Linked DNA regions of Homo sapiens: region 2 is linked to region 1. The links come from fine-mapping of genetic effects on gene expression. A gene starts in region 1. The other region holds a variant in brackets. All regions are shown on one strand. Distances are from middle to middle. Region 1 holds the start of PGPEP1 (pyroglutamyl-peptidase I). Region 2 overlaps PGPEP1 (pyroglutamyl-peptidase I).

The links. PIP is the estimated chance that this variant, and not a neighbour inherited with it, causes the effect. A credible set is the group of variants that fine-mapping cannot tell apart.
Region 2: its variant is the best candidate, but not a certain one, in a credible set for the expression of PGPEP1 in neutrophils (BLUEPRINT, PIP 0.61).

The regions. Positions count from the first base shown.
Region 1 is chr19:18,338,585-18,341,588 of GRCh38, forward strand. It overlaps PGPEP1 (pyroglutamyl-peptidase I), which reads left to right and starts at 2,014. Exons shown (of 5, transcript NM_017712.4): 1 at 2,014-2,131. The coding sequence starts at 2,098. RefSeq lists a silencer at 1,863-2,052 and an enhancer at 1,884-2,571.
Region 2 is chr19:18,365,517-18,368,016 of GRCh38, forward strand. PGPEP1 (pyroglutamyl-peptidase I) reads left to right here. Exons shown (of 5, transcript NM_017712.4): 5 at 1-2,500. Among named protein-coding and RNA genes, the nearest start is that of GDF15, 19 kb to the right of the region's middle. The variant G/A (reference allele first, on the strand shown) is at 1,488.

The sequences.
Region 1 (3,004 bases):
TTAGCCGGGCATGGCAGCACGCGCCTGTAGTCCCAGCTACTCGGGAGGCTGAGGTGGAAGAATTGCTTTAGCCTTGGAGATTAAGGCTGCAGTGAGCTGTGATCGCTCCATTGCTCTCCAGCCTGGGCAAAAGAACAAGATCCTGTCTAAAAAAAAAAAAAAAAAAAAAATTCGTGACCCAAGTCCAAGGTCCAGTCCTGTTTCTGAAGATGTGGCCAGAAACTCAGCTTTCATTTTCTACCTGTTTTTAGAGGAATTCTGGTCTCTGATGAATGTTGGCAGAATGTGCCTGGGGATGTGCTGGGTGTTGAGACGCAGCTCTAACAGAACAACGCTTCCTCCTCTAGAAGTTCTCATCTCTATGTCGGAGGAAACGGGAAGCCAACCAGAGAGGCTGTGACCATACTAAATGATTTCTGCTTAATAATACCTGGGGAGGGGGCCGGAGGCAGTGGTTCACGCCTGTAATCCCAGCACTTTGGGAGCTGAAAAGGGTGGATCACCTGAAGTCAGGAGTTCGAGACCAGCCTGGCCAACATGGTGAACCTCCCTCTCTACTAAAAATACAAAATTAGCTGGGTATGGCGGCACTCGCCTGTAATCCCAGCTACTTGGGAGGCTGAGGTGGGAGAATTGCTTGAACCCGGGAGGCAGAGGTTGCAGTGAGCCAAGATCACACCACTGCACTCCAGCCTGGGTGACAAGAGTGAAACTACGTCTCAAATAAATAAATACATATATAATTTCTGCTTAATAATACCTGGGGGACTAAATAATCTGTACAACAAACCCCATGACACGAGTTTATCTATATAACAAACCTGCACATGTACCCCAAAACTTAAAAGCTAAAAAAAATTAAAAATGATTTCTGGCCAGGTGTGCTGGTTTACACCTGTAATCCCAGCACTTTTGGGAGGCCAAGGTGTGCGGATTGCTTGAGCTCGGGAGTTCGAGACCAGCCTGTGCAACACTATGAAACCCCCATCTCTACAAAAATACAAAAATTAGCTGGGTGTGGTGCCACACACCTGTAGTCCCAGCTACTCAGGAGGCTGAGATGTGAGGATCAGTTGAGCCCTGGAGGTCAAAGTTACAGAGCTATGATTTTGCCACTGCACTCCAGCCTGGGTAACAGAGTGAGACCCTGTCTCCAAAAAAAAGAGAGAGAAAGGAAATTATTTCTGAGCTTTATTGCTATGAAGAGGATGGAACCAGGGAATGAGATGGAACCACTGGGGGGTAGCAGTGAGGTCATTTCAGCCAAGGAGGGCCAGAAGGAACCCTCAGAGGAGGTAATAGGATAGCAGGGAGGTGATAGCCAGAGAAGGCCACAAGGAGAAAGTGACAGTTCACCCCTCGGAGGAGGTGACAGCCAGGACAGGAGGAGGGCCCCTGGGAGGAGGCGACATTGGAACACTGGAGCTGAGGCCTGAAGGAGGCCAGCTTCGCAGGTACCTGCGGGGTGTGTTCCGGCAGAGGGAACAGCAGGTACAATCGCCCTCCCCCATTAGCCTCCTAGGACCATGGGGGCCTGCAGAGAAACTTCTGGCACCACACAAATATGGTTGTCGTGTTTTTCCTTTTTTACTCTGTCCTCCCCCACCCCCGCCAACTTCCTGGCCTGAATGCTGCTCCTGTGACCCCTTGAGGCGAGTGACCTCGGGGAAGTGGCATTCTGTGCCTCAGTTTCCTTATCTGGAAAACGGGCCTTGCTCGCGGGGACTTCCCTCCCTAATTCTGCGCAGTATGCATGCATAGGGCAGGCCCTCAATGAACCCTTGCAGAATAAAGGACCGGCTCATCCCCAGCACCTGGCTCAGTGCGTGCAAGCGGCTACACACTACGGCATAAGATGTTCCCATTTTGCAGACGGGGAAACGGAGGCTGGGGAATACCGGGCCTAGCCGACGGGGGCGGGGCGCAGGGCGCGCACGCTGCGTCTCGGGCCCGGGGGCGCGCACGCCGAGCGGCTGACCGGGGGCGAGGCCGGGGGCTTGACAGGGGCGTGGCCTCGCGCGGCCGAGAGGCTGCAGCGGCAGCAGCTGTCGCGCCAGTCGCAACAGAAGCAGGTCCGAGGCACAGCCCGATCCCGCCATGGAGCAGCCGAGGAAGGCGGTGGTAGTGACGGGTACGCTGGCTGATGGGGGCTGTAGCGGCAGCGGCCGGGGGCAGAGGCGGGGGCGGCTCCGGGACTGCGGGGCCGAGAGGGGCAGGTGCTGGAAGTCCTCTCAGATTTGGAAGGTGTCATCACCCGCGGGAGCCCCGCGCAGCCCAGGCTTCCTGGAAAGTGGAGGAGGAGGAGCCTTGGGGGTCCCAGGGTCGGGAGTCAGGGCAGTCGGGCGCGGGGCTTGGGGGGCCGGGCAAAAGCCCGGCGCTGCGCAGGCCCCCCTGGCGTCCTTTCCTCCCAAGGTGGGGATGGTGACCCTCCTGGCACCTGCCTCCTCTGTCTGGCCTGCGGGCTGGACTGGACCCTTCCTCCCTGCCCCTTCCGAGGTCCAGCCTGTCCCCACACCGCTCCCCCAACCCCTGGCCCCAGGGGACAAAGGCCGATTTGCGGGCAGGAAGTGTCCCAGTGACAAATGAACCTCCCAGTCACTGCTCGCCGCGCCCTGCGCTCCTGGGGGGCTACTCTCCCAAGGCAGGGGCAGGTGGGGGTCCGGGGACCTCGGGCTCTCCCAGCTGTCCCAGGGACTGTCTTCAGCGGAAACCTTTTTGTGTTTTGTGCCAGGGCTGTTTGTTGGTGAGTCAGGGCCCCTGCTGTCACCGACTCCCCCCCACCCCCAAACCAACTGTTTCTCCTCCCTGAGACTCCGCCTCGGGGCCACGTGGGGCGCCAACTTCCGCTGGGGCCTCAGAGTCAAGGAGTGGGGGGGTCATTTTGACCTGCTGTCTGGAGGGGTCAGAGTGGGAAATCCAGCAAAGGTGCACACAGGTGTTTTGTGGCTGTTGAAGGGAGATTGAGGCTGATCCAGGAGATTCAGGGAAGAAGGAAGAAACAAGG
Region 2 (2,500 bases), 27 kb after region 1:
ATTTTTTATACAGACAGGGTTTCACCATGTTGCCCAGGCTGGTCTCGAACTCCTGGACTCAAACTGATCCTCCTTTCTCGGCCTCCCAAAGTGCTGGGATTACAGGCATGAGCCACTGCACCCAGCCCAGTTCTTTCTTAAAACAGCTGAGAGTTTTGTTTTCTTCAGCGTTCACCTTCCTTGTCTCCAGTTCCGATGCTGGCAGTGGTTCCTACCTCTGTTGGGTTTCTAGATAGTTTGGGAACGGGGTTGATGGGTTTCTGTGAAACACATTTTCCAAGTCTTGGGCTTTCTCTGGAGGGGAAGGTGGATGCTGGCGGGTGACTTGCAGTGGGCGCCTGGCAGTGGGTGTGGACTGTAACTGACAGGTGGAAATGAGTAGGGACACTATTGTTCCCTCCATGCCAGCTTTTTTTTTTGCTGGAAATGCCCCCTCCACACCCCTGGTAGCTCTGTGTCCTGAGAAATCCAGAGTGTGGGAGACATCACTGCATCTGTCCCCCCAGCTTCTGTGAAGGGAAGCTGTGGCCTCTTTTGAATGTGGGGAACAACTGAAGACTCAGGGGTCACCCAGAGGTCTGGTGGAAAGCAACTTCAGGTTTCATCTTGCTCTATTCCTCAAAGGTCTGGTCTGTGGGCCTCTGAGGAGAAAACAGGTCTAGCCAAGACAGGGACAAAATGGGGAAGGGGATGTGCCAGGCCTGAACTGAGCTAAGCACCTGCCCCGGGCTCCACACTTCCATCTTTCTTTTGTCTTCATTTCACCTCTGTGTTTAAAGCACTGTGTGACATAGCTCCTTAGAGATATAACCTATTGTCTGCTCATTGTCACGTGTGTGTGTGTCATCTTTGTATTCTTGCAGTGGTTTCACATTTCCTTACCCAGTCAAGCCAGTATCCCATCCTTCCTCATAATGCACAACATTTGGCTCATTTTATTTTTCTCATTGTTATTTTTTATTTTTATTTTTTGAGATGGATTCTCACACTGTTACTCGGGCTAGAGTGCAATGGCGTGATCTCGGCTCACTGCAACCTCCACCTCCTGGGTTTACACAATTCTCCTGCCTCAGCCTCCCGAGTAGCTGGGATTACAGGCGCCCGTCACCACACCTGGCTAATTTTTGTATTTTTAGTAGAGATGCAGCTTCACCATGTTGGCCAGGCTGGTCTTGAAATCCTGACCTCAGGTGATCTGCCTGCCTTGGCCTCCCAAAGTGCTGGGATTACAGGTGTGAGCTACTGCGCCTGGCCAAGTTTTTTACAAATATTTTTCTTTTGGTGGAACTCATCTGTGCACTCTCTGGTGTGTTTTTCCACCTTTGTTGGGTCTTGGCTTAAAATATCCTCATGTGGGCTAGGTGTGGTTACTCACACCTGTAATCCTAGCACTTTGGGAGGTTGAGGCAGGAGAATCCCTTGAGCCAGGAGTTCAAGACCAGCCTGGGCAACATAGCAAGAGATCCCATATCTACCAAAACATACAA[G/A]AATTAGCCAGATGTGGTGGTGCATGCCTGTGGTCCCAGATACTCAGGAGGCTGAGGCAGGAGGATCACCTATGCCTGGGAGGTTGAAGCCCCAGTGAGCCATGATCACACCACTGTAGTCCAGCCCGGGTGACACAGCAAGACTCTGTCTCAAAAAAAAAAAAAAAAAAAATCCTCATGCAAGAAGGGAAGGACCAAGTCCCATTCCCTCTTGCCTCATTTTCAGAGCCTGGGGTAGGGGCTACAGGTGGCATAGGAAGGGTCTGCAAGGTGGGTGGGACTTGGCAGGTGTTGGGAAGAGGAATAGGGGTGGCAAGTGTCAATGGTGAAAAGACAGGCTGAGGGGTGTGGTGGGAAGGCTGGGGGAGAAAGGTGAGAAGTGATTGGGGGGGCTTCCCTGATGAGTCCTCATGGAGGGTGCTGAGGCAGGGAACAGGGGTGCAGGGACAGTGATCAGGGCACCTGGTACCCTGACCAACTTGATGATGGCATCTCTTTTAAGATGCCCAAGTCTGCGCACTTTTATTCCTTTATTCGGCCCCTAGCACCCCCTCCCCACCCCAAAGAAGGTCAGTTGCATGCGTGTGGGGATGTAGCTCAAAAAAGAAATAAGATGGAGTGGAAAGGAAAGAAAGGAAGAAGCAGGAATTCAAGGTGGGTGGGCTGAGCTTGGGGCCACCTAGCCCACCTGCTCCAATCAAGGGCTGGAACAAACCTGAGGCCACTTGGAGAGGCAGGGCTGGGCAGGGACAGGGGGTGGGGGCCGAAATCACAGCTTCCCCATCAGAGCCAGATGTGTGAAGGAAATGTCCCAGATGGCAGTAGTTTCTCGGCAAGGAGGGGAATCCTGGAGATGGTTCATGTCTGTGATCCCAGTGCTTTGGGAGGCTGAGGTGGGAGGATTGCTTGAGCCCGGGAGTTCGAGACCAGCCCTGGGCAACATGGCGAGACCCCATCTCTACAGAAATTAAAAAAAAAAATTAGCCAGTTGTGGTGTCAAGCACCTGTAGTCC